Linked DNA regions of Homo sapiens. The protein of the gene in region 2 interacts with the protein of the main gene of each other region in a pairwise test. Each region holds a gene or a part of one and is shown on either strand. Other genes may lie near its edges. The genes, in order: GPX8, ZDHHC22, CREB3L1, BMP2K and TMEM14B.

Evidence for each region.
Region 1: the proteins of ZDHHC22 (region 2) and GPX8 interact in binary tests that used the Homo sapiens proteins (3 or more experiments, as listed by UniProt).
Region 3: the proteins of ZDHHC22 (region 2) and CREB3L1 interact in binary tests that used the Homo sapiens proteins (3 or more experiments, as listed by UniProt).
Region 4: the proteins of ZDHHC22 (region 2) and BMP2K interact in a two-hybrid assay, tested with the Homo sapiens proteins (one large-scale study listed by IntAct).
Region 5: the proteins of ZDHHC22 (region 2) and TMEM14B interact in binary tests that used the Homo sapiens proteins (3 or more experiments, as listed by UniProt).

What each region holds. Positions count from the first base shown.
Region 1 is NC_000005.10:55,163,171-55,165,483, forward strand, and holds part of GPX8 (probable glutathione peroxidase 8), read left to right. Parts: intron 1-884; coding exon 885-1,048; 3' UTR 1,049-2,313.
Region 2 is NC_000014.9:77,138,968-77,143,207, reverse strand, and holds the start of ZDHHC22 (palmitoyltransferase ZDHHC22), read left to right. Parts: upstream 1-1,416; 5' UTR 1,417-1,605; intron 1,606-2,463; exon of another isoform or gene 2,464-2,665; intron 2,666-3,455; 5' UTR 3,456-3,469; coding exon 3,470-3,995; intron 3,996-4,240. UniProt on the Homo sapiens protein: Palmitoyltransferase that could catalyze the addition of palmitate onto various protein substrates and be involved in a variety of cellular processes. Catalyzes the palmitoylation of KCNMA1, regulating localization of KCNMA1 to the plasma membrane.
Region 3 is NC_000011.10:46,280,645-46,284,169, forward strand, and holds part of CREB3L1 (cyclic AMP-responsive element-binding protein 3-like protein 1), read left to right. Parts: intron 1-3,525.
Region 4 is NC_000004.12:78,908,850-78,912,374, forward strand, and holds part of BMP2K (BMP-2-inducible protein kinase), read left to right. Parts: intron 1-1,760; coding exon 1,761-3,184; 3' UTR 3,185-3,525. UniProt on the Homo sapiens protein: May be involved in osteoblast differentiation.
Region 5 is NC_000006.12:10,750,805-10,754,167, forward strand, and holds part of TMEM14B (transmembrane protein 14B), read left to right. Parts: intron 1-328; coding exon 329-430; intron 431-3,363. UniProt on the Homo sapiens protein: Primate-specific protein involved in cortical expansion and folding in the developing neocortex. May drive neural progenitor proliferation through nuclear translocation of IQGAP1, which in turn promotes G1/S cell cycle transitions.

The DNA.
Region 1 (2,313 bases), on a different chromosome or scaffold from region 2:
GAGTGGTATAAATAGAAAAAAAATCTACATTTCTTACATAAATTAAGATTTATCAAAAGGATATCATGGCTGGGCATGGTAGCTCATGCATGTAATCCCAGCACTTTGGGAGGCCAAGACAGGAGGATCACTTTAGTGCCCAGGAGTTCAAGCCCATCCCGGGCAACACAGCGAGACCCTGCCAAAAAAAAAGTTATTGCTTTTCAAAATAAGGTGATTATTCACTTTGGGAGGCCAAAACCCTATCTCTACTCAAAATACAAAAATTTGCCTGGTGTGGTGGCACACACCTGTAATCCCAGCAATTTGGGATTACAACTTTGCTTCATTTTTTTTGGCTTTTAATTTTATTTGACACAGAGTTTCACTCTTGTCCCCCAGGCTGGAGGGCAGTGGTGTGGTCTCAGCTCACTGCAACCTCCACCTCCCAGGTTCAAATGATTCTACTGTCTCAGCCTCCCGAGTAGCTGGGATTACAGGTGCACACCACCACACCCGGCTAATTTTTTGTATTTTTAGTAGAGATGGGGTTTCACCGTGTTGGGCAGGCTGGTCTTAAACTCCTGATCTTAGGTGATCCACCCGCCTCAGCCTCCCAAAGTGCTGGGATTACAGACTGAGCCACGGCTCCCAGCCTACTTTGCTTCATTTCTTGATACTAAGATCACATACTAGATGAGTAGACTCATAGGTGAAGTCATCAAGTATATTGAAATCTGGTTACTCTAACCTTGAGTTTCACTTCGTTTGGGTGTTTTGTTTTTTATATTATGACAGTCCTAGAACTTGATACTAAAGTTATCATTTATGCAGATACTAATAGAAGTGAAAATCTTGACAAAGAATAAAATTATGCTCATGAAAATATGTTCTGGATATTTTAGATTCTTCAAAGAAGGAACCAAGGTGGAATTTTTGGAAGTATCTTGTCAACCCTGAGGGTCAAGTTGTGAAGTTCTGGAAGCCAGAGGAGCCCATTGAAGTCATCAGGCCTGACATAGCAGCTCTGGTTAGACAAGTGATCATAAAAAAGAAAGAGGATCTATGAGAATGCCATTGCGTTTCTAATAGAACAGAGAAATGTCTCCATGAGGGTTTGGTCTCATTTTAAACATTTTTTTTTTGGAGACAGTGTCTCACTCTGTCACCCAGGCTGGAGTGCAGTAGTGCGTTCTCAGCTCATTGCAACCTCTGCCTTTTTAAACATGCTATTAAATGTGGCAATGAAGGATTTTTTTTTAATGTTATCTTGCTATTAAGTGGTAATGAATGTTCCCAGGATGAGGATGTTACCCAAAGCAAAAATCAAGAGTAGCCAAAGAATCAACATGAAATATATTAACTACTTCCTCTGACCATACTAAAGAATTCAGAATACACAGTGACCAATGTGCCTCAATATCTTATTGTTCAACTTGACATTTTCTAGGACTGTACTTGATGAAAATGCCAACACACTAGACCACTCTTTGGATTCAAGAGCACTGTGTATGACTGAAATTTCTGGAATAACTGTAAATGGTTATGTTAATGGAATAAAACACAAATGTTGAAAAATGTAAAATATATATACATAGATTCAAATCCTTATATATGTATGCTTGTTTTGTGTACAGGATTTTGTTTTTTCTTTTTAAGTACAGGTTCCTAGTGTTTTACTATAACTGTCACTATGTATGTAACTGACATATATAAATAGTCATTTATAAATGACCGTATTATAACATTTGAAAAAGTCTTCATCATTTTCAGTATTTCTCTCTGCATTATTTTTTAGAAGCAACTCAAATTCTGTAATCATAATATTACCAAGTAAGTCAGTCTTTATTTTTGCGTGAAAATCCCAAGTGTAGAAAAAAGGACATGAGTATAAGATCATTTAACTTGATTCCTTATAGGCTGATTTGGGTTGCTAATGTATTCGTACTAGATTAGCCACTTGGGAGGAATTCAATGCTGCATCATTCTGATAGCTGAAATAGTAAAAGTCAACTCCAAACAGCCTAAATTCTAGTATAAAAAGGGGGTGATCATACAAGTCCTAAAGTGTAGATCAGCAGTCACTGAACCTCTTAGAGTCACAAGGCATTTCTTCTCCCAAAGTCATGACCTTTATATTTTGTTAGCCTTATAATTGACTAACAAAGCAACCTGCCAAGTTGGTGAAGGTTAATTATTGCCTCATGAAATATACATTCATCGCATAAAAGAATTAAATAGGAAGATGGCCAAAAATGTAAAAAAGTCGTATAAATTTGTCTAAGAAGAAAAAGACCCAATTTAAGTAGTCTGTGACTTGACTCCCAAATTCTG
Region 2 (4,240 bases):
CTGCTCACGGCCACCATGTGGCATATACTGTTCTTTCACTTACATGTCAGATCCTTTTAGAATGTGAAAAGGTTTCCTGGCCTCTTTTTTATTTTGATGTATGCTGATAAATTACAGAGGAAACAGTGTGTGGTTATTCAAGAATAGAGGCTGAGCTGATCAGCATATGGCCCTCATTTCAAGGGATTGCTCTTGTTTTAATCAGCCAGTTGAGAAAGCAATAAATGTTTATTTATTAAGTATGCCATCACCGAGAGGAGAGGAACAGGGCAGGTAGGTGAGCTGCGACACCCAGGAAATTGAGGATGGTGATGGCACCAATATTCCTGCAGTGTTTGATGTTTTTAAGGCTCTGCTCCCCCCACCCCCCACTGTTTGATACACATTGGTGTCACTACCCTCTTGGCGCATCACAGTACCCACCTTAGAATAGCGGAGCCCTGGAAGGGGAAGGAAATAGAAATAAGAAGGTGGGGGTGAGGCTCAAAGAAGAAGCTCCAAGTTCAAGCTCTGTGTCTGGATAAACTCCCATTGTCTTTCCTTCTCTCAAATCAGAGCTGCCCGTGGGTCCCAGGGTGATGCTGGGCTGTGTAGAGGCTGAGTGCAGGAGCATTAATGCTAGAACCAGGTTCAAGTCCAGGCTCTGTCACTTAATGGCTGTATGACCTTAGACATGAGACTTAGCTTCTCTGAGCTTCAACCTCCTCATCTCCAGAATGGGGCTCAGCCAGCTTCACAGATCAGGCTGAGAGGATTAAGGAAGCATCTTATGCTAAAGGCTTAGCACAATGCCTGCTACCTAGTAGGGGCCCGATAAGTAGTGTCTAATTATGATCTAATCAAGCAGTGCTTGCCCTGGGCAGGCCCTGTTTAAGGGTTTTACATAGATTGTCATTTAACCCTCATATCTCTATTTCACAGATGAGGAAACTGGAATCTAAGATCACACTGGAATTTACAGACGAAGAAACTGGAATCTGAGATCTCACAGTAGTGAATGGTGAATATTCAAACCCAGGTAGACAGGCTCCAGAGTCCCAACTCCCAACCCTCTGTACACAGCCCTTCCGAGGAGATGACGCTGATCTTCATGGGTGTTGCCCTGGCAAGCTGACCTCTCAAGCCCCCAGGGTTCCTTCAGTCCGAGTGGAGAGCAGGGAAGGTCGTGGGACCTAGCCGAGAGGGAAGGGCAGGATGATGGCTGGAGAATCCACATCAGGGCTGAATCCCAATCTCCCAGCTGGAACGGGCGCTGAAACCAGGCAGGGCGCCCCAGCCCGCTCAAGGGGAATCGAGAGGGGAGGAGGGGGCAAGTCCACGATGCTGAGACTGGCGGCCAGAGCACCGCCCCCAGGAGCGGAGGGAGGGGTGGCGGGGCTGGGGGGTGCCCAGCTGCCATCCCCGCCGCTTCCTGGCCCTTACTCGCTGGCGCCCAAGTGGGAAGCCAGCAGCTGCCCGCTCCCTCCTCCCCACATCCCCGCTACTTGCCCAGTTCCCGAAGCGAAGCGCAGGCTGCGAGCCAGCCGGGCCGAGTCCACAACTTTGCAGCCTCGGGCAGGGCGAGAGCCGGCGTCCGGGGCTCCTCTTGTCGGCGACCAGAGCTCGGTGAGTTGATTTCCTCACCCCTCTGCGACGGCGGCAGTGCGGCGGCGGCGGCGCGGGGGGCGGCTTCCCGTGCGTCCGGGAGGCAGTGGCCGAGAAGCCCGCGGCTGCCGGCGCTGCCGGTCTTTCCAAGGCTCCGGCTGTGCCGCCCTCTGCCGCGGGCGAGGCGGGCGCCAGGGCTGAACGGACAGCTCCCTACACCCCGGGGCCCCACGGGCGGTCTCTGCTGTCCCTTCTCCCGCGCAGGGCCAGGGCTGAGGCTGCCTGCCGAGCGCCCCTCACTCCCCTAGCCCCTGTCCTTCGCCGCCTTCCCAGCGCTGCGGCGCATCTGGCTGCTCCCGCGCCCCCCTGGCGACCGGCGCCGGGAAGGCACTTGCTTCGCCGGAGCCCCAGGCCGAGGGCTCTCTGGGGTGGGCAGCACCGCCGCAGCCCCCGGCGGCGCAGGACTGGGGGCGTGCCCAGCCCCCGGCGACCACCCTCAGGCGTGCACTGCGCTGCGCCCCAGCGGTAGGGAGAGGCCCACGCTCTCCGCGGAGGCTGCGGGTTCCCGGGGGGCGCTGGGACCTGCAAAGGGGATTCCAAGGTGACCAGTCGACCCGTGCGGACGGGACAGCCTGGACGGAGGCCCCGTGGCATCCACCCATCCTAGGTGCAACCGCCTTCCCAGAACTTTTCTCGCGCCTCCGGCTGGCCGATTCCTTAGCCCCTGGAAAAGTTCTCTCGGGCGCACGGAATCCTATTTCTCGGTGGCTTCCGAAGCTGGCCAGGAACCCCGGCTGTGAGGCGTGGGGTGGGATGGGGACGTGGTGAGGGCTGAGCACGGCGGCGGGGTCGATCCCAGGAAAGGCTGGCCAAGCATCCACTCGTGCGCCCAGGGCGGGCTTGTCGGCATGGAAAGGATTTCGGCGCCATGAGGGTTGTTTGGGTTTCTCTCAGCAGGAGGGCGGGAGGCGGGCGCGAAGGGGGGATTTTAATTTCGCCTCAAATGAAAACGCTCTTCGCAAAGAAATAGCCCGGGCAGCCAGCGTTGGAGAGATGTGCTGGCCAGGACCCGCTGACACAGGTATTCTGGTTGCGCCCCCACCTCACCCGGTGCCCGAGAGCGAGTGTGAGTGTATCGATTGTTTCAATTGATTTTTTTAAAGCTAGATAGCAGAGGCTGCGTGTCTGTACACGCAGATATATACATACACAAATACAGATACTCAAGCGCACACAGATTACACGTACAGAGTCACAGACAAGGACACACACACACACATCGTGGTCCCTCACGCACACATACCTCCAAAGAGCCTTGGGTAACCTGGTGAGGTCCCTGAGTGCTGCCCAAGATGTGTGTGTGGGTGGGGACGCAGGGACGGAGAAAGGGGAGTGTGAAGCAGGATTTCCAGCAGGTCAAGTGCCGCTGATTCTCCTGCCCCCGACCCCAAATCCTTCCCTTTCTCCTCCTAGGGAGGTCTGAACCAGAAATCCCAAACCTGGGCTTGTTTCCACATCCACAGAGGGGAGGAGTCCTATCCCCCGGTGCCCCCCACCCTCACAACTCCTAAAGACTGCAAACGAGTCCCTCCCTCCTGTGCCAGACTCTGCCGCGCCAAGGCGCCGAGCTCGCTCAAAACCCCAGGCAACACTCACCCCCAGGTGGGGCCTAGACCCGAGGCCGCTGCGGGCTCGGGTCTCTGGCCTGCCTGATCCGGGGTTAGGGAACTGGGGAGGGGAAATCCGCGGGACAGGGGGTTGGGGGCGTGGAGTCGCGTGCAGTGCCCCAGACGCGCGGCACGGAGGAGCGGGCGAGGGCGCCCCCTGGACGCCGTAGTCAGTCAGTCCTCTTCTCACCCCGGGCCCCGCAGGAATGTAATCGAGGATGCTGGCCCTGCGGCTGCTCAACGTGGTGGCCCCCGCCTACTTCTTGTGCATCTCCCTGGTGACCTTCGTGCTGCAGCTCTTCCTCTTCCTGCCCAGCATGCGCGAGGACCCCGCGGCCGCCCGGCTCTTCTCGCCCGCCCTGCTCCACGGGGCGCTCTTCCTATTCCTCTCGGCCAACGCCCTGGGCAATTACGTCCTTGTCATCCAGAACTCCCCAGACGACCTGGGGGCCTGCCAGGGGGCCTCGGCCAGGAAGACTCCATGCCCCTCACCTAGCACCCACTTCTGCCGAGTGTGCGCCAGAGTCACCCTGAGGCACGACCATCACTGTTTCTTCACCGGCAACTGCATCGGCAGCAGGAACATGCGCAACTTCGTCCTGTTCTGCCTCTACACCTCCCTGGCCTGCCTCTACTCCATGGTGGCCGGCGTGGCCTACATCTCCGCTGTCCTTTCCATCTCCTTCGCCCACCCCTTGGCCTTCCTCACGCTCCTGCCCACCTCCATCAGCCAGTTCTTCTCCGGTGAGTGGGCCTTGGCGGGCAGGTTGGGCTCTACACAAAGACCTCCCACCCCAAAGGTTGCCGGGCCCCAAACCCCAACCCCAAAAGTTGCCAGATTTAGCAAATAAAAATACAGACCGTCCCGCTAAATTAAAATTTCAGATAAACAACTCATAATTTTTTAGTATAATTATGTCCCAGATATTGTATGAGATACACTGAGAAAATTTGCTATTGGCTATCTGAAATGCAAATTAAGCGGACAT
Region 3 (3,525 bases), on a different chromosome or scaffold from region 2:
TAGAGACTGGATGGGCGTGATAGTGAGAATTGCTCAGCTACGAGTTGCTGTGTGAACATAGCAAGTCACTTTCCTTCTCTGGGGTCTCCATCTCCATATCCGAGGTTCTTTCCAGCTGAGATCCCATTCCAACCCTTCCCCCAACTTCTTCATTCTGCATGAGGATAGGAAAATGTTTCCAGGGTTAAGGATGGGTAGGGATGGCGTCTGTGTGCCTCTCAGTCTGGAAAATGGAGAGCAGAATATTCGCTATCCTCCTTAAAAATCCAGATACGGGCCATAAATCATGTGGAAATCATGTGTGCTCTGTTGCTCTGTGCAAAATGCAAAATGTATGCTCACCCTGAAAACAACTATGCAAGAAATACGCATGCACTTGGACAGACAGGAGAGTGAGTACACAAAGTCAAGACAAGTGTGTTTGGAGGTGGCTGGGCTGCCTTATTTTTCTTTCTATGAGGATACCTTCATGTTGCTGCAATTCTGTTTATGCGATTCTCAGAGATCCTCAGAAGGGGGCTGCCCTTCCTGTCCCATGTGGGGGCATCTCCTCCCTGCCCCTCCCGCTCTCCCATGGTTTCTGATGTGGCCACCCTTGAGCCACTGTACTCTGTGGTCCTTCAGCCCCTTGGCCAGTATGAGAGAGAGGGTCTGGGCTCCAAGAACTGGGATAAAGGACCAGAGGGAGAGCAGGTCGTTTCTCCAGATGGAAACACTAGGTCTGTGTGCTGTCCCCTCCTTCCTCTGGCTAAGGGGAAGGGATGTCTGGCTTCTCTAGAGGGAACTGGCTTGGGATCCCAGAGAAGCCCCAGCTGGGAGGGTGTGGGGAGGAGAAGGAGGAGGAAGAAAAGGTCTGTTTTCTCAGAGGGGAGCAGCAGGAAGCTGCAAGGATGTTTGCCCAGCACACCCGTTTACTCCCTGCAGCTGGGGAGGCCAGGTGTGGGAGTGACGGGGACCCAGGGACCAGCCCAGCATTGCGGGGAGGCGGTGGGGGCTAAGGCTGATCGCTACTCCCCACACGCCTAGCCTGGCTTCTCCTGAGCTAACTGGGAAGCAGAGAGGCACCCCCACCCCCAGCCTTCGGGAGATTTAGGGAGATTAGAGAAGTATGTGTGTTTGGGTGTTCCTATGTCTGTGGGTGGGCCTTTAACAGTCCTTAAAAGGGGAGATTTGTGTGTGTTTCTGTTTAAGTTCTCACCAACAGGAAAGAGGACAGAAGTGCTAAGGCACTCTGGTCTCAGAGTGCAATCTGCTAGAAAAGATCTAATGAAAAACCTACTGGAGGAGCCCAAATCTCAGGGTGCCTATTCAGAAAGGAGACCTCTGATACCTACTCTATCAAAACATTAAGTTCGTTTTGAGCAGAGGTTTGATTTGGGTTTTGCTTCCCCCAGTGTTGAGGGAACAGTTCCTTGAGTCAGGGGCTTGGTCTGTCTTGTTCACTGCTGTATCCCAGTGCCTAACAACCGTTGATGAATGAATAAATCGATGGATGGATGAATGAATGGATGGATGGATGAAGAAAAAGGGGCCCAAACCAGACCCCACATTCTTAGAGAAGAGGGAAAAGTGTCCTTAAGCCCATCTATTTGCAGCCATCGAGGTCCTGCAGACCCTGCACTGTCTCTGGGGTCCAGGAAGGGCTCTCCATGGTTTTTAATGAGTTCTCATTACCTTGAGCCATCCCCCTACTGCACAGGCCTCTGCAGCCCCTGGTCTAGAATAGTCTACAGCTGGCTGACCCACAGGGGATTTGAACTTGTGGCTCAGGTGTCACTCTTGAGCACTGTCTCTAGGGCTTCCGTTTTCCCCAGTTTCTTCTTCAGATTGCTCTAGGACTCCTGGATCCATACTCACCCAATTTAAGACTAAGCCTTTTCCAGCCCTGCCTCAGAGCCCTTGCACATGCTGTTCCTGTCATCTGGACTGCTTTTCCCCCAGTCTGTCCATCTCAGCCTTCTGATCCCAGCTCAAATATTGCCTCCTTAGGGAACGCTCCCTGACTACCTAAAGTGGGACCCCCCTGTTCTTTTCTGTTTTAGTCTTTTGATATCTTCTAGCCCTTAACCCAGTTTGCAATTATTTTAATGGCCTATTGTCTATTTCCTCCACGAGAAAGTAAGTTCCATAAGAGGAGAGTCCATATCAGTTTTGTGCATTGACATAAACCTAGCACAGTCACATGGGACAAAATAGATGCTCAATGTAGTAAAATTCTACAATAATGCAATAAATATGCCCAGTCAAAAATTTCCAATTATGTTCCTTTGCGGTGACTCATGCTTGTAATCTCAATGCTTTGGGAGACCAAGGTAGGAGGATTGCTTGAGCCCAGGAGTTCAAGACCAGTCTGGGCAACATAGGGAGACCTCGTCTCTACAAAAAATAAAAAAAAAATGAGCCGGGCATGGTGGCATATGCCTGTGGTCCCAGCCACTTAGGAGGCTGAGGAGGGAGGATCACTTGGGCTGGGGAGGTTGGGACTGCAGTGAGCCATAATGGCATCACTGCACTCCAGCCTGGGCAACAAAGCCAGACCCTGTCTCTAAAAGTAATAATAATAATACAAATTTAAAAATAAATTTTCCAATTACATAAAATGTGGAGTAATATTTTTGTAGAATTAACGAAAAACAGTATTTTTCAGATGGTCTGTACTATCACAAAAAGCAGGAAAGTAAAAATTGTGACACCTTACTGCACAAAGCAGACCAAACAGAAAGAGTACCACAGGAGCATGAGGCAGTCACTTTTTTTTACCAGCCCCATAGAGAATGGAGTTTTGCTCACTTTTATTTGAGAAGGGGCCTGAGCATAGAACAGAAGTCAAGTTTGGGTCACATTGTAGTGAACTTTGCTCTATTTCAAGGACTTACTATATTTGTAGAGAAAATTACTTTAGACTGGGGCAATCCTTGTAAGGGAAGGGAAAAATTGTTTTAAAAAAATCCCAGGCTGGATGTGGTGGCTCACACCTGTAATTCCAGTACTTTGGGAGGCGGAGGCAGGGGGATCACTTGAGGCCAAGAGTTTGAGACCAGCCTGGGCAACACAGAAAGACTCCGTCTCTACAAAAAATAAAAAATAAATTATCCAGGCATGGTGGCACATACCTGAAGTCCTGGCTGCTTAGGAGACTGATGTGGGATGATCACTTGAGCCCAGGAGTTCAAGGCTGCAGTGAGCTATTATCACGCCACTGCACTCCAGCCTGGGCAACAGAGCAAGACCCAAAAAATCAGATCTAAGTGTTCAAGAGGTGTACTTATGATTCCTGAAGGGATCCTGGGGTTTTCAGGATCCTGGACTGGCCATCCCTTAGGGTGGTGGGGATGCTGGGTCCCACAGAAGTGCTGTCTGTGCCCCGATATGTTGTGAGGTCCCTCCGGCTTCCCTGGACCAGCTGGGAATTCACTTGCTCATTCATTAATACACATGTCCATTCCTTCAGCAACTGGGCACTGAAGGAACATCTATGCTGGTGCCAGGGTAACCCAGATGAAGAAAACACACTTGACCCTCCAG
Region 4 (3,525 bases), on a different chromosome or scaffold from region 2:
CATCAGGGTAAATGGGTTTCTATCACGCCACTCATTCTTTTCTTTCTGTTAATGGTGCTGCCATCCACCAAGAGTTTTCAATCTCTATTTTTTCTACTTTGACCCACCCTGCCACCACTGTCATGTCATCTAGGCCACCAAAATCTCTAACTTGCATTACTATAATTTCCTTTTGCCTGAACTCCCCTTCTTACCTTCCCTTAGTCTTTTTTTTTTTTTTTTTTTTTTTTGAGACAGTTCGCTCTTTGGCCCAGACTGGAGTGCAGTGGTGCGATCTTGGCTCACTGCAACCTCTGTCTTCCAGTTTCAAGCGATTCTCCTGGCTCAGCTGGCACCTGCCAACATGCCTGGCTAATTTTTCTATTTTTAGTAGAGATGGGGTTTCACCATGTTGGCCAGGCTGGTCTCAAACTCCTGACCTCGTGATCCACCCGCCTTGGCCTCCCAAAGTGCTGGGATTACAGGGGTGAGCCACCGCACCCAGCCCCCTTAGTGTTTTTCTATAGAGCAGTCATTTTTTTTTATGTAAACCTAATCATGACACCTATTTTAATAATAGCTTTCCATTATACATGGAATTTTGAATTAGATGTATAATGAAATATACGCTGCTTATCATGGCCTTAGAGGACCTTCACAGTCTGGCCTTTTCCAGTCTTCCTTACCTCATGTTGTACCTGATCCTCCCTTGCTCACTATATTCCAGCCACAATAGCCTATTTTCAGCCCCTTAAATATGTCTTTATATATGCCATTGCTTTTATTGGAAGCTGCTTCCAGCTTATCCTTTGCATGGCTGGGCTCCTTCTCATTGTTCAATCCTAACTGTCGTCTCCTTAGGGAGGTCTTCACCACTGTCCAAAGTAGGTTTATGCGCCCATTTCCCTGCTGTCCTTTATTTCAGAGCACTAGTCACAATTTATGTTTACTTACAACCTCTGACTGTAAACCCCTGAAAGCAGAAACCATGTTTCTTTTACTCACCAATGTATAATCAGTGTATAGCAAAGTGCCCTATATTTCTTTCGTTGAATGAACTCAGAAAATGAAGTGACTGAATGGATTCTGAGCTAAAAACATCTCCAGATGGTTTAGATTTGTTTTTAAAGGAATCTCGCTTTTTTAATGTAATGTATAGATATTATAATTAAAGGAAGTCATATCATCTAGAGAAGGCAGATGTTTTTGGTACAGTCTCCATTTAGTATCTGGTCCTTAGCTTTGGTGAGGCCATTCATGCTAAGTCAATTCAAAAGATAGTGGTTTATAAAAAATACAATGCTGATTTAAAAAAATAGTGAAACAAATACGTAACTGAGCAGGCAGGCTGTTCATGCTTGTTGATCTCTATGGGAAAACTTTACAAGAGTTGAAATATAAGCAGGAGGTATTTGGTGAATGTGAAATCTGAGCTTTCAGAATTAGCAGAATAATGTTATTTTGGTGGTGGGGTGAAGAAAATTTGCTAGTCTACTACATTCTGTGTGCTATAAATAAAATTTGGCTGTCAGTGAGAGTACGATGAGGCAGGGTGTAGGGTCCAGATATGAATAAGTCTGTCTACATTAAGACTTAACTATCTACCTGAGGTCAAATGCATTCTCTAAGTCTAATGACGAAGAATTGACAACATTATTTTTTCCTCTAAGGGAACTCGTATGAGGGATTTGTAATGCCATGTGTAATACATATTAACATTTAGTGCAAGAGGATTCTGAAATGCATTGGAATGCTGTAATAATATTTATTTGAACTTGCAGGTTCTCCTGAAAAGAAAGCTGAACATTCATCTATAAATCAAGAAAATGGCACTGCAAACCCTATCAAGAACGGTAAAACAAGTCCAGCATCTAAAGATCAGCGGACTGGAAAGAAAACCTCAGTACAGGGTCAAGTGCAAAAGGGGAATGATGAATCTGAAAGTGATTTTGAATCAGATCCCCCTTCTCCTAAGAGCAGTGAAGAGGAAGAGCAAGATGATGAAGAAGTTCTTCAGGGGGAACAAGGAGATTTTAATGATGATGATACTGAACCAGAAAATCTGGGTCATAGGCCTCTCCTCATGGATTCTGAAGATGAGGAAGAAGAGGAGAAACATAGCTCTGATTCTGATTATGAGCAGGCTAAAGCAAAGTACAGTGACATGAGCTCTGTCTACAGAGACAGATCTGGCAGTGGACCAACCCAAGATCTTAATACAATACTCCTCACCTCAGCCCAATTATCCTCTGATGTTGCAGTGGAGACTCCCAAACAGGAGTTTGATGTATTTGGCGCTGTCCCCTTCTTTGCAGTGCGTGCTCAACAGCCCCAGCAAGAAAAGAATGAAAAGAACCTCCCTCAACACAGGTTTCCTGCTGCAGGACTGGAGCAGGAGGAATTTGATGTATTCACAAAGGCGCCTTTTAGCAAGAAGGTGAATGTACAAGAATGCCATGCAGTGGGGCCTGAGGCACATACTATCCCTGGTTATCCCAAAAGTGTAGATGTATTTGGCTCCACTCCATTTCAGCCCTTCCTCACATCAACAAGTAAAAGTGAAAGCAATGAGGACCTTTTTGGGCTTGTGCCCTTTGATGAAATAACGGGGAGCCAGCAGCAAAAAGTCAAACAGCGCAGCTTACAGAAACTGTCCTCTCGCCAAAGGCGCACAAAGCAGGATATGTCCAAAAGTAATGGGAAGCGGCATCATGGCACGCCAACTAGCACAAAGAAGACTTTGAAGCCTACCTATCGCACTCCAGAGAGGGCTCGCAGGCACAAAAAAGTGGGCCGCCGAGACTCTCAAAGTAGCAATGAATTTTTAACCATCTCAGACTCCAAGGAGAACATTAGTGTTGCACTGACTGATGGGAAAGATAGGGGGAATGTCTTACAACCTGAGGAGAGCCTGTTGGACCCCTTCGGTGCCAAGCCCTTCCATTCTCCAGACCTGTCATGGCACCCTCCACATCAGGGCCTGAGCGACATCCGTGCTGATCACAATACTGTCCTGCCAGGGCGGCCAAGACAAAATTCACTACATGGGTCATTCCATAGTGCAGATGTATTGAAAATGGATGATTTTGGTGCCGTGCCCTTTACAGAACTTGTGGTGCAAAGCATCACTCCACATCAGTCCCAACAGTCCCAACCAGTCGAATTAGACCCATTTGGTGCTGCTCCATTTCCTTCTAAACAGTAGATACTTCTGATGGATTCTCGGCATTAACTCCTGTTTCAAAAAAGTGTGAACAGTTTTATGAATTTGAAAGAAAATTTGGTAGCTCTTTATAGCATTCATTCTTAAAGATCAGTCAGAATAGGTGATTTCTAAATAAACCAAATAGAAGAATGAAGTATCTCTACAGGGTAGTAACTTGATTCCTCTTCAGGAGAAAAGGGAGCTAAATTGCAAGCTCTAACTAAGGGTTTCTGCTACTGACATCACAACACAGAAATGCAAGTGTGGTACTTCCAGTGAAAGCACATGGCACCTTTCTAGGTGTGTAGCCACTGAGAAGGGACAGTGAAACTGTTATTTTT
Region 5 (3,363 bases), on a different chromosome or scaffold from region 2:
CTAAAAACAGGGTTAGTAAAAACAAGGTTAGGCATTACAAAAGAAGGCCTAGTCATAGTTCTGTCTAAGGAGGGAAGATGGCCTTCTTTCCTTTCCTTAGATGGAAGTGCCCTGCCTATTAGAGGAGAGAAAAATGGGGTGGGAAGACCCTGACTTCTCTGAGAAGATAGCACACTCTCCTTAACGCCTTCCTGCTTGAGTCCACCTTGGCTGTGAGCTGTGTTGAGAGTTCTTTGTGCTGTCCTTTGTAGGGCAGGAGGTCTGGTGGATTCCGTTAGTGAAATAAGTGCCTGACATTACAATGCAAGCTGCGTTTGCTTCCTTCTAGGCAGCGTGCCGTCCCTGGCTGCAGGGCTGCTCTTCGGCAGTCTAGCCGGCCTGGGTGCTTACCAGCTGTATCAGGATCCAAGGAACGTTTGGGGTTTCCTAGGTATGTCTGCTTCAGCGTCTCCTTAGGGCAATCATGTATCTGGAATATTCTTTTCCAAAAGACCCTGGTTTGGTGGGATGGAGCGAGTTCTTCCCACTTAATTTACGACAGTTTCACTGCTTCTCCAAGTCCAAGTCCTCAAAGTTTTAAAATAGGAGAAGGGTGGTGGGAATTGTCCTGGTTCCTGTTTATTGTTTATGTAGATAATATGGAAAGATTTCCATACCTTGTGAATTGTGTGACTCTCAGAAAGTCATCCATCCTCTGTGGGCCTTATTTTCAGTGTTTACCCAGTAGAATTAGTATCAAACTTGTATTACCCATATTTACCCAGTAAAGTCAGCATTAAACTTGTATAAGACAAATATGTGTCAACCGTTGAGGTTTTCCGCTGAAGACCATTGGCCTCAGTATCACTAAAATATCACGTATCTGGGTTAGGTTTGCAGCTGCGTTACGTTTTTCACATTTGAAAATCACCTCTTTAGCAGTCAGCTAACTAAATATATAAGACGTAGACCATGCTTTCAAGGAGCTTTCAACTGACTTCACTGGGGAAGTAAGACATGAGCATAGAAGCAGGACTGGAAAGGTACCCTGTGAGCAGCACGGACAGTGAGGACAGTGAGTGGTGTGGAGGACATAAGAGTCCTCATCAGAGTGGTTTTCAGTACATTTCTGTGGAGCTCCACCCATGTGTCAGACACTGCTATGAGTGTGGGTTCCTTGCGGTCTCTACAAACCCCGTGTGAGAATGAGTGCCATGTGGGAGGGAGAAGCCGTGTGATCTGTACATATCAGCTGGGGTGGGGAAGGGAGGTCCGTGATGGCTAATGGGGTGTGCTGGGGAAGGAGGTGTGTCCAGGTCCCAGCTCTGCCTAACAGCTCCCTCCCTCATGCTCCAGAATGACTTGAGCCTGCATTTTCCCTTTCTCTGATCCTACTCCACTCAGCAAATGACCTCACACCTATTGTAGAGAAAAAACAGCAGCCATCAGGTGGGGACTCCTGGAGCCTTTAATCTCCAAGCCTCCCCTCGTCCTGTTTCCCTCCTTTCCAACACCAGTGTCTTCCTCTGGGCTTTGGGTGTCTTCTCCCTGACCGTCTCCAGACCTTTACACTGGCCAGGATCCTGTCTTGTATTTGTATTCCTCCTTTTAGGTGGATCCCCGCATTGATATTCAGATGTGCTTGTCTCCTTCCCCTTCATAAACTACCTTTTTTTTTTTTTTTTTTTTTTGAGACGGAGTCTCACTGTGTTGCCCAGGCTAGAGTGCAGTGGCGCGGTCTTGGCTCACTGCAACCTCCGCCTCTTGGATTCAAGTGGTTCTCCTGCCTCAGCCTTCTAGGTAGTTGGGATTACAGGTGTCTCCCACCATGTCAGGCTAACGTTTGCATTTTTAGCAGGTGCAGGGTTTTTGCCATGTTGTCTGGGCTGGTTTGGAACGCCTGACCTCAGGTGATCTGCCCACCTTGGACTCCCGAAGTGCTGGGATTACAGCCATGAGGCAGCACGCCCAGCCAAGAGGGAAAGAGGGAGGGAGTGGGAGGCCAAAAGCCTACAGCACCTGGTGTTTCCCCGAAGGTGGGGTGGTAGTCTCCCATCCAAGTACCATGCAGGACCGGACCGACCCTGCTTTGCTTCTGGGATCAGACAAGATCTAGCACATTCAGGGTGGTATGGCGGTAGACCACAAACTTCTTAAAGATCATTTATGCAGCTGGGCGCGGTGGCTCACTCGTATAATCCCAGCACTTTGGGAGACCGAGGCAGGCGGCTCACCTGAGGTCGGGAGTTGGAGACCAGTCTGACCAACTTGGAGAAAGCCCCATCTCTACTAAAAATACAAAATTAGCCGGGCTTGGTGGCTGTCACCTGTAATCCCAGCCACTCAGGAGGTTGAGGCAGGAGAATCGCTTGAACCCGGGAAGTGGAGGTCGCGGTGAGCCGAGATGACGCCACTGCACTCCAGCCTGGGCAACAAGAGCGAAACTCCGTTTCAAAAAATAAAGATCATTTATGCCTCCTCTCCCATCACACATGATCAGCCCATTTCAGTCTCTGTTTCTGTCCCTGTGTTTGTGGAATAGCTCTCCCTGAGGCTGCCAGTGACCTGTGTTTGTACAAAATCCAATGTACATTTTTCAGTCCTCATTTTACTTGGCCATTTAGCAGTTCTCAGCACGGTTGACCAATCATTTTCCATTCTCCTGGTTTCCCTTTTTATCCTCTCATTCTCTTTTGGCAACCTATTTTCCTTTTTGGCCACTAGATATTGAAGTTCTTCAGGCTCTTCTTGTCTACTCACTTGACAGTTTCATTGAAGCCTATGCCTTTAATTTCCACCGATACACAAATGACACAAATTTCTCTCTCCTCCAGGCTGGACTCTCATGTATTCATCTGTCCACTTTCCTTCAGATGTCTCCAGGAATCTGCCCGGACCTAACCTCATGGCCACACACTCCCCCTGTCTTCTGTTCTCCATCCATTCGGTTCTTGATTGCTCTCTTTCCTTTCTACCACCCCCTTTCTGACTAATTCATCAGCAGGTCTTGTCGACACTACCTCTAGCCCTTATCCTGAGTTGTCCTCTTTTTCATCTGCACAGCCATCGTCCTAGTCCCAGTTATCCCCTCTTTCTTACCTGCATTCCCAAGGACGTTCCTTAGCTGGTATCCCCATGTACCCTCTAGTTTCCCTGAAGTTTGTTCTCTATAGTATAGCTAGAATTACGCTTTCAAAATGCAACTCTGGGCCGGTTGCGGTGGCTCCTGCCTGTAGTCCTAGCACTTTGGGAGGCCAAGGCAGGCGGATTGCCGAGCTCAGGAGTTGGAGACCACCCTGGGCAACATGGTGAAACCCGGTCTCCACTAAAATTAAAAAAGGCTTCAGCATTGCTTGAACCTGGGAGGTAGAGGTTGTAGTGAGC